Linked DNA regions of Homo sapiens: region 2 is linked to region 1. The links come from fine-mapping of genetic effects on gene expression. A gene starts in region 1. The other region holds a variant in brackets. All regions are shown on one strand. Distances are between the middles of the regions.

Evidence for each region. PIP is the estimated chance that this variant, and not a neighbour inherited with it, causes the effect.
Region 2: its variant is fine-mapped to the expression of MARK2 in whole blood (TOPMed, PIP above 0.99).

What each region holds. Positions count from the first base shown.
Region 1 is chr11:63,835,832-63,841,335 of GRCh38, reverse strand. It overlaps MARK2 (microtubule affinity regulating kinase 2), which reads right to left and starts at 2,226. Exons shown (of 19, transcript NM_001039469.3): 1 at 1,776-2,226. The coding sequence starts at 1,829. RefSeq lists a silencer at 1,892-2,131 and enhancers at 2,142-2,291, 2,552-3,540.
Region 2 is chr11:63,913,997-63,918,996 of GRCh38, reverse strand. It overlaps RCOR2 (REST corepressor 2), which reads left to right and starts at 1,833. Exons shown (of 12, transcript NM_173587.4): 1 at 1,833-2,667; 2 at 3,386-3,442; 3 at 3,739-3,819; 4 at 4,043-4,095; 5 at 4,181-4,342; 6 at 4,456-4,580; 7 at 4,667-4,736; 8 at 4,828-5,000. The coding sequence starts at 2,541. RefSeq lists silencers at 955-1,004, 1,682-1,741, 1,882-2,001 and enhancers at 2,093-2,756, 3,378-4,330. The variant G/C (reference allele first, on the strand shown) is at 2,171.

The sequences.
Region 1 (5,504 bases):
AAAAGGGTCAACCCTGCAGAGAAAAACTCTGCCTAGAACTTCTCTTTAGTTCCTAACTGCCCAGGTGACAGAGGGCCAGGGGGTAACAAAATAGAAAAACACAGTAAAAGAAAGGAGGTAAGATTTTTCAAAGAAGAATGTTCACATGCAAGAGAATACAACAACTGCTCTACCGGGCTACAAAGAAAGAAGGGAGTAAGAGGGAAACATAAAGGATGGAAGGAGGGGAAAGAAGGCAAAAAGCACAGCAGCCCCGGGGCAGAAGCACTTCTTTTTCAAGTCAAGTTTTTTTGGCCTAGTAAAGTTCTCCACCAAGAAAGGTATGACAGGCAGGGGACTCTGCACAGAGCAGTCAGCAAAGGACGCTAGAGATGGTGAAAGAAAGGGGAGGTGTGGAAAGTGGACGTCTCTGGGATCAAAAGTGAGATGACACAGAAAGGCTAAGACTTGGGTGAAAAACATAGCAGTGACTGCCAGGATGAGGGGGACCGTGTAGAGTCGTGAGGCTGAGGTGTAGCTCAAGAAACTAGCATGCAAAACACCTGGACTTCCTGGGCATTACAGAGACTTAGCCAATAGGAACAGAATGGATCCAAGCACGGTGTGGGGATACACAGGACATGAAGAAGGCAGGAGACTAATGCGGAGATGAAAGGCAACGCTGATTAAAAGGCACAGTAAGGAAGATGGGGTGAGGGTGGAGAAACAGGAAGGCAACAAGCAAGAAAGAAAATACTCTAAGTGCCAGGCACGGGAGTGAAGACACAGAAAGTCATCATGGTTTGTGTTCCAGCGTACGAAGACAGAAAGGCAAAAACTGTGATGCAGCGAGGTCTGGGAAAGGACTGAGCAACAGGTTGTGTTAATACGGTGGGGCCAAGTGTCTTTGGGTTGGGAGAAAGAGCCCAGTAGAAGGCTGGTAGAACACTCACAGAGAGAAACAAGAGGCCCAGGGACCTAAAAGCCAAACCCGAGGGGAAGAGAACAAGAGGGATCCAAAGACTCTGAAGGGAGTGATGATTGGAACCCCAAACGCAACCTGTGGGAAAACTATGCGCATGACAGCTGTGGGGAAACACGGAAGCGACAAATGCCAGCGCCAGGATCCAGGGAGCTCCTGGAGCAAAGAAGGGAAAGTGATGAGCAAAGAGTAGGCGAAGGATTTGGAAAGGTGATGAGGGTGGAGCTGGTGGGTTGCAAGCAAGAGGGAGAGCACAATTTGGAAAACGAAGAAGCAGGGTAGAAAAAGCTGGGGGAACTGCAAGGGGCCAGGGATCGAGAGCGCAGTCCAGGGCAAGGACCCTGAGGGTGATAACCCAGAGACTGGCAGAACCGGTGCGGGCGGAGGGGAAGCGAGGCAGGAGAGACGAAGGGAGAGGTGGACAACGATCTGTGGCAAATCGCGGGGTGCTGCTATTCGAGGAGCGGGAGGGTGGCTGCTTTAAGCGTGGGTGGAGGAAGACCAGAAAGGCCCCTGAGAGAAAAAGGGAAGAGAAAGGGAAGCTGGGGAGGTGACACGGAAGAGCGCAGGAGGGCGGTGAGGGGAGACGGGGGTTGGCAGAAAGACAAGTGTGCAGCTTGGAGTCAGGACGAGGTGGGTCCCAGGTCAGGACTCGGAAGCGGGATGTGCGGAGCCGGAGCCAGGAGCCGGATGACAGGGCAGCCGAGGCTTGCAGGATGGCAGCAGGGGCACGAGGAGAGCAGAAGAGGGAGGAGGCTCCGCAAGGTGCAAAGGGCCCAGCCAGAGAATTCGGGGAGCCCTCGGGGCTCCTTACCTGCTCCGTGTCCCTCTCGTTCAGCGTGGGTAGGGGGGTCCGAGCGCTGGACATGGCGCCGGTATCTCGGGGGAGGGAACCGAGAAGCTTGGAGGAAGGGAGGGAAGGGAAGGCGCGGAGCCCGGCCGGGCGGGGCTTCTCACAGCAGGAGCACCCGCCGCATGGGCCCCGGCCGGGGGTGCGGGGAGGCCGGGCAGCCGCTCACGCCAGCCCGGGGATGCGCCGCTCGGGCTAGGCCGCGCCGGCTCCGAGCGGCTCCGGACCGCACCCCCCCGACCCCCGGCTGGGCTGTGCCGCCTTTCGGCCGGGCCGCGCCGCTCCGCCTACTCTCTGCCGCCGCAGCCGGCCGCCTGCCTCGCTCCTCCCCTGCCCTCAGCGGCACTGCTCCGCGCCCGGCACACAGGCAGCCGCCGCCGGACCTGCTGCTCCCAACATGGCCGCCACCACCGCCGGCCCTCGGCTCTTTTCGCCGGCAGCAGCCGGAAACATCCGAAGCGGCTAGAAACGGGAGGTGGGGCGCGCCTTCTCCTCCCGGCCACAGACTACGGGTGAATTCCGGAAACAGCCGAAGAAGGTAAACCCCGGGGACGCGCTCTCCTCCTCGATTCCGAAGACGAAGCTTCGGCTCTGTTTACGGAAATCCACGAAGCGACCCCGGGTGCCTACCCCCCGCCCCCGTCCACGGCCATCCAGCCACGCCCACCGGCCTTTCCCCGCCCACTTCAAGGGGGCTTTCGGCAGTTTCCGGAAATACCCGAAGCTGCTCCGCGTGCTGAGCCGGCCACGCCCCCTCCCACAGCCCTGCCGAGGGCGGTCGTCGGCCATTTCCGGCAACACCCGAGGCCCTCCGAGCACCCGGTCGTTTCCCCGGGTGGCTCTCGGAGTCTGATTCGCTTCGTGTCTTTCCGTCAGTTTTCGGGCATTTTCAAACCTTGAACAGGAAGCGTGGGTCACCTGTCTGTGCTTGTGATTTGACTAAATACAAAACAAGATTGTTAGCCGTCCCTGTGATTGGCATCCTCTGGTTCTATAGCAGCTTCCTGTCTGCATTTCTGTCCATCTGTCGGTCAGCTCATAAAATTCATCTTCTTTTTATCATCTAGCCTATCAATATACCTGTCAAATGCAGCATCAGTCTATTGCCTGTCTGCCACCGTCTATCTTGGCTTCTGTGGATTCATCCGTGCATTCCCGCATCTAGTCCGCAGGGCTCGGCAAGGCCCCAGGCAGGCCCAGGGCAGCGTCCTCTGCACCGGATGCGGGAGCGTCCAGGGCCCTGCATTTCAGCCCCAGCTCTGCCAAGTGCCAATGCTGCGTGATCTTGGAAAAATCACATAACATCACTGAGTTTAGGCTCCTCTTTCCTTTGCCTTTGCTCCTGCGTTGACATTCAAAATGACATTTCTGAATTCCAGTTACCTTTTAAAATGCCTCTGCAAGATAAGGCATTTAAAGTTTCTTTTCTTTCCTCCTCTGGGCCTCATTTTCCCCATCAGTAAAGTGAAGCCATTGGATTCATGAACTCGGAGGTCCTTCTCAGCTTTGGAGAGCCCTTGACTAACAGGAAGTCTGTATGGCAACTGCAGTCCATTCCTCACTTCCCCTTACACTGCGTTACCAAGGACAGGGAGTATCCTGGGCTGATTTCCCCAGCGCCAAGCTGTCCTCACCCATAGTACCTGGAACACGTTGGAACCACACCCTCCCATCAGTGGCTTAAGGTGGGCAGGAGGCAGAGGCCCCGCAGGAGTCAGAAACCAGACTCAGGCAACAGGTTCCCAAAGGTACAGGAGCAGAGAGGCTCCAGGAGTTATTGGGAAAACTGCTGATTGGACCCCTGCTACTTGACCTCCAACTCCCAGCTACAGCATCTTGAGCCAGCCTTCATCCCATCAATCAGAGAAATAGGCATCTGAGCAGATGTAATTACCAGGGTATGAAAGTACTTCCTAAGGCAACAGGTATCACTACACTCTTAGTAAATCCTGGGACTTCAGCACTGCTCCCCATGCCCCATACCAGCTCTATTCAGGCACCCAACCGTTGAGGAAGAAGGTGAAGGCACACCCATGAAGGTGAGGGAAAGAGAGAAGAGGAGGACAGAGAACACCTCACTCCCCAACCCAAATTCGATCCTTGAGAATCATCTGCCCTCTGGTGGCCAAAGGGAGACACGTTGCTGATTCCTGTGCCTGGTATCACCTCTAATGCCAGGGTCTGGAAAGCAGGGAAAAGAGAGAGGAAGCAGTTGGTGGTTGGTGTTCCAGCAGTCTCTCCCTGGTCCACACTCTCGTCTAAATAGACTCCATCTTCTCCAAGCTTCTCACTCTAGCTCTAACCCCTGCCTCACCCCTGCCCTTTGACCTTCATCCCCAACCCCTACCCTACCTATCCTTTCTCTTCCTTGCTAGCTTTGCACAAGGCTGCTGAGCTTGTCTCCCCGCCTAGACTCCCTCCAACCTACTGCACCAGACATGTCAGAATAATCTTCCCAAAGTCCAGCTCCAATAACATCTCTGCTCTGCTAGAAAGCTATCACCAGCTCCCTCACTGGTTATAGGCAGGGCTGGCTTCTTGGGCCCACGACCCCATGCAGTCACACAGAGCCCTGTGCTCAGGTGGACCCTGAGCTTGGATTAATGCTCTGCTGTCACCATCTTGAAATTTTTTTTTTTAAGACTGAATCTCGCTCTATCTCCCAGGCTGGAGTGCAGTGGTGCGATCTCAGCTCACTGCAACCTCCACCTCCCAGGTTCAAGTGATTCTCATGCCTCAGCCTCCTGAATAGCTGGGATTATAGGTGCCCACCACCACACCCGGCTAATTTTTTGTGTTTTTAGTAAAGACAGGGTTTCACCATGTTGGCCAGTTTGGTCTAGAACTCCCAACCTCAAGTGATCCACCTGCCTCGGCCTCCCAAAGTGCTGGGATTACAGGCGTGAGCCACCACGCCCGGCCCATTATCTTGAAATTTTTGACCAAGGGGGCCATGCATTTCCATTTTGCACTGTGCCCCACAAATTATGTAGCTGGTCCTGGCTGTAGGAAAAGCCTTTAGCCTGCATTTAAAACTTTGCTCAATCTGGCCTCACATTGCCTTACAATAACCTCTCCAACTATCACTGATCACACTTCTCCCTAACTCCTACCCCGCTGCCAGTCTCTCTCACTTCCATGCCTTTGGTCAAGCTGATAGATGATTGCCCATCATCCACCTCAGCTTCCAGAACCACTTCAAGATCCAGTTCAAATCTCACCTACTCAAATCCATGAACCCTCCTAGTTCTCCTCAAAGATGAATTATTGCCACACATTTACCCCCTCTCTAAATCTGCAAATTCATTTATTCATTCAGCAAATCCCTACTGAGCACCTACTATGTGCAAGGCATTGTTTTAGGCTTTTAGGTAGATCAGTGAACAAGATAAAGATCTCTGCCTGCCAGGCGCGGTGGCTCATGCCTGTAATCCCAGCACTTTGGGAGACCAAGGTGAGGGGATCATGTGAGGTCAGGAGTTCGAGACCAGCCTGGCCAACATGGTGGAACCCCGTCTCTACTAAAAAAAGCACACAAAAAATTAGCCAGGCACGGTGGTGGGCGTCTGTAATCCCAGCTACTTGGGAGGTGGAGTCGGGAGAATCGCTTGAAACCAGGAGGCAGAGGTTGCAGTGAGCCGAGATCACCACGCCACTGCACTCCAGCTTGGGCAACAAGAGAGAAACTCTGTC
Region 2 (5,000 bases), 78 kb before region 1:
GAGAATGAGGTTCTTAGGAGGCGGGGAAGAGGGATGCTGGGCCGGAGGGAATCCAGTGGCTGGGGATCCCTGCTAGAGAGACTGGGGGTACCTGGGGCAGCCCTGGAGTAGGGAGGCAAGAAATAAGCAGGATGCTGAGCCTGGGGGTGCAGGTTTGAGTCTGGGAAGGAGGCAAGGGGGATGGGGGACTCAACTGAGGCCCTGCCTAATAGGGGGCGGGGGCAAGATGGAAGACAGCACCGTAGGAGAGGCTGGTGTGCAGCAATGGTTGCCTGCCAGGCAGGAGGGGACAGAAATGAGAGTCTCTCCAAAGGGTGGAGGTGCTGGGGACAGGGATGGCGCCCTGCCACTTAGGAGGGGTCGGCCTGGGAAGACTCTCAGTCTTGAATCAGACCTCCTTAGCTCAGACCAGCCCCTGGTCCATTCATTCTCCTTTGTCCAGACCTCCCCACCCTGGGGCTTGGTGCCCAATCCATGATTTAAGAGGAGGATAAAGGCCCCGTAGCCCTGGCCCGAGGTGTGGCGGGCAACGTGGCCGCTGGCTGGGTGGCCCCATGTGGCTCGACGGCGCAGCAGCCGGGTGGGGTCGAGCCTGGCTTTCCCTGGCTGTCCGCAGGAGTCCCCGGGAACAAGCGGCCCCAGCCGGGTCGTGGCCCGACCGCAACACCCCGGCCACTCGGCCGCAGGCAGCGGGTGGGGGCAGGGATCCCTGGCTGGGCCCTAGGCTGCTTCTAAATTTAGGAATCTGATTACAGAGTGGACCAGGAAGGGAAGGGAGAGGAGGGCGCGAGTGCGGGCTCGGCTCAGTCTGGGCACAGCGGGGTGTGCCTGGGTGGAGGTGTGTCCAGGAGACTGGGGCTCCGGGTGGGAGGGGCGGCGGGCGGGGGCTTCAGCTTGTGTGCGCTGCAGCACGTGCCCCGGGCGGCGGGGACGGGCACGGGCGCAGCTCGCAGGCTCGGAGCCGCCGCCGGTGTGTGCGCTGGCTCTTTGTGTGCCTGGCAGGGTGGCTGGGTCTGGCTTTGAAAGTCTCTGCCCACCCCCTCCCCCATCTCCGTCTGTGCCGCTCTACCCGCTTCCCTGTCTGTCACTCTGCCCGTGCTTGTCCGGGGGGAGGGGGATGCTGCTTCCAGCTGGGGTGACAGTGAACCCAGTGGGGAGGAGACCCAGCTCCTCTCTCCCCTGCAGCCCAGACCTTCCCCTACACCTCCCACTCCCCATCCCTCAGCCCTTGCTACCACTGTTTAGGGGTGCATACTGCAGCAGTTAAAGGGAATTGGGGCGACCCTTGGGGACCCACAGATCCACCAGAAGCCAGCCTCTGGCTGGGTAGCTCTTGGAGGAATTCATTCCTTGCCTGTCCAGCCTCCCATCCGTTCTGGCCCCCAAGGGCGCATAAGGGGGGTCCCCCCTGCGGAAGGGGGGGCGGGGAGTTCCTTGGCAGGAAGGGAAATGGAAGGAAAAGCTGGGCTCCACCCGGGCGGGCGGGCAGGCGGCCCCAGGGCCCCCGGGGCAGGCGGCAGTAACCCGAGCCCACTGGTGTGTGGTGTTGGTGTGCGCGTGGGTGGGGCTGACCCCTGGCTACTCCTGGGGGGCAGTGGGGTCTCCCCCAGGGGCAAGTCTGGGAGCCCAGGGACGCGAGGGGAGCCCCCGCAGCGGGACGCGCGCCCCACCAGGGTCCTGATCCCACCCCCTGGAGGTCTGGCCCCGGCCCCCTGGCCCCGCCCCCCGGGCCCTCCCTCCCACCCCAGGGCCAGATGTTCAGCTGGCGGAGGCATCGGCTGGGGGAGGGGTGCTGAGGCCGCAGCCGGCACTACTTCCCTGCCAGCAGCTTCATTGTGTGCGCGAGGAGCGAGCGGCGGCGGAGAGCGGGCGAGCAAGCGGCATCCCGAGCGCGGCGGGGAGAGCGAGCGCGCCGGGGAGGGTGCGAGGCGGCACCCGCGGCTGCGCTCCGCCCGCCTCCCGGCAACTCTGCCCAGCGCCGCGCGCCGTGCGCGCCGTCCCGCCGCCGTCGCCGCCGCCGCCGCCGCCGGTGCCCCGGCCGGCTGCCGTCGCGGGCAGGGGTCTGCTTAGGACACGGGTCCCCGCCCGGGGACTGGGGCATCCCCGGCGCAGCTGAGAGGCGCAGAGCCCGGGGGGCGCAGATTGCGCTCCAGCGCCCAGCCGCTGAACG[G/C]CGTGGGCAGGTGGGCGGTGGGGTTCCAGGGCGCCCCGAGGACAGGGGGCCCCGACTTCAGGGGAACCCCAACCCTGAGGGGCGTACATAGTAATCACGCCCCAGCCGCACCGGACCTTGCGCTCATCCCTTGCGTCCCCCACTTCTGCACAAACTTTTCTGACGCCCTGGCTCGTGGGGGTCGTGGAGAGCGCTGGGGCTACCAGGTGGGCTCCCACCCCGCCGGACCCTAGCCACGCTGACCTCCTGCCTCTCCTAACCTCAGTGGCGACCTCTCCAGGCCGGGCCGGGCTCGGCACTCGGAGCGAGTGCGGCAACCACTGTCGCTCTCCGAAGGCTCCTGCGCCCCCCGGGGCAGCTGGGCGGGGTAATGCCCTCAGTGATGGAGAAGCCGAGCGCGGGCTCTGGGATCCTGTCCCGTAGCCGGGCCAAGACGGTGCCCAACGGCGGACAGCCCCACTCGGAGGATGACAGCAGCGAGGAGGAGCACTCGCACGGTGAGCCCGGTGGCCTAGGGTTAAAGGCGCGCCGGCCTGGGGGGAGCGGAGTGGGGCGGGAGGGGGAAGAGTTGCAGACCACGAGCCTGTTACACTGATGGCTCCTGCCTCTCCTGGATTGGAGCCTCTGCGTTGCTTCTCCCACAAACCCAGGCTGCCGGCACAGCCAATCTGGAACCTGGGCCCCTAGCTGCTGTGGAGGCGTCCTGCCGGCCCCTGCCCTGCCCTCACCCCCTCAGGGACCGAGGCATCCCTCCCTTGCATAGAGTGGGTCCCTCATACCTTGCCACCTTGCAGGGGACTGAGGTCTGGCTGGAGCAGGGACTGGAGAGACACCTCCACACAGAGCTGTGAGGCTCCTGTGGTGGGAAGGAGCCTTGGGTTCCTTGCAGGGCTGTGGTCCAGGTCTAGGGGCTGCCCTCCAACCCCGCTCCCCTCCCCCGGAACAAAGCACCCTGCTTGGCCTGGGCTCTAAAACTGTCCCCTTGTCCACCCTCCAGCCCCAATGGCCATGGCTGGACAGGGTCTTTTCCTCTTCCAGTCCCTTCTGTGGCTGCAGGTAACTGGGGTACAATGAGGGAAAAGTGAGCCTCCTGGAAGGTGGGGGCCCTGGGTGGTCAGGAAGGAGAACTCCAGGCCGGCCACCTCCCCCGCCCGCCACATCCTCCCTCCCGCCCGCCCTCCCTGGAGTCCTGACTGCCTCCCCCTGGCTCCACAGACAGCATGATCCGCGTTGGAACCAATTACCAGGCCGTAATTCCGGAGTGCAAGCCTGGTGAGCCGCAGGACAGGCTGTGAAGTGGGGTGGGGGTGGAGGCCCGGGGCTTGGCCTGCAGCCCCACCTGGGGCGCCCTTGATTGGCTCCCCTGGAAGGGCAGGCTGGCAGGGGTGGGTGGCCCCCCAGCATGGTTTGCTTTCCTGCCCTGCCTTCCTGTCTGGGTCTCTGCCCCTCCTTCCCTTCTGGGCCTCAACCTCCCTGGCTCCACTCCTCTGCTGCCCTCTGGCCATGGGTCTAGGCTTGTGCCACCAGGCTGATCTGAGTGTCTTCCCTCCTGCTCCTCGGCCTTTCAGAGAGCCCCGCACGCTACAGCAACAAGGAGCTGAAGGGGATGCTGGTGTGGTCACCCAACCACTGTGTGTCAGATGCCAAGCGTGAGTGGGGCACAGCCCTGGGAGGTGGGGGCTTGGGTTCATCCCAGCTCCAAGCTAGCTCTTCTCAGAAGGGGGCTGGAAGCTGAGGTGTTCGTGGGTCCAACCCTTGCCCTGGGGCTCGTGTTCAGGGACCTGGCCGTTGTGGGGTGGTCCCTTTCTGGACAGGCCTGGGTTAGGAGCTATAACCCCCTTCACCAAGACCCTGCCCCTGCTGCCCCTGCAGTTGACAAGTACATTGCGATGGCCAAGGAGAAGCATGGCTACAACATTGAGCAGGTGAGCCTTGGCCCCCAGGGACTTGGGAATGGGGTGGAACGGTGCCGGGGCAGCTCAGGCTCAGCTGCCCCTTGCCCCGGGCCAGGCGCTGGGCATGCTTCTGTGGCATAAGCACGATGTGGAGAAGTCGCTGGCCGACCTGGCCAACTTCACCCCATTCCCTGACGAGTGGACAGTAGAGGACAAGGTGCTGTTTGAACAGGCCTTTGGCTTCCATGGCAAATGCTTCCAGCGGATCCAGCAGATGGTAAAGCCCTTCCACCCCCACTCCCCGGCGCTCCTCTGCCCCTCCTTTCTGAAGAGCTTACCTGGGGCCCAGAGTCTTGAGTGGTCCCCAGCTTCTGGCGTTGCCTCCTCCAGCTGCCTGACAAGTTGATTCCCAGCCTGGTGAAATACTACTACTCTTGGAAGAAGACCCGCAGCCGAACTAGTGTGATGGACAGACAGGCCCGGCGGCTGGGGGGCCGCAAGGACAAAGAAGACAGGTGGGGGCAGGAGCAAGCACTGGGCATGGGGGTAGGTAGAGCTCCTGGCAGCTGCCTCATTCCCTCCCTGGCCCCTGTGTCAGCAGTGATGAGCTCGAAGAGGGTCGAGGAGGCGTGAGTGAGGGAGAGCCCGATCCTGCAGATCCCAAGAGAGAGGTGAGCTCCCAGAGCCTCTGGGCCCTGCCTGCCTGTCCTCTTGCCTCTCTCTGGCTCTGCACCACCTACCTGCCTCTCCTTTCACTGGCAGCCTCTACCCTCTCGGCCCCTGAATGCACGCCCAGGCCCTGGGAAAAAGGAGGTCCAGGTGTCTCAGTACCGCCACCATCCCTTGCGAACCCGGCGTCGCCCACCCAAGGGCATGTACCTGAGCCCTGAAGGCCTCACGGCAGTGTCAGGAAGCCCGGACCTTGCCAACCTCAC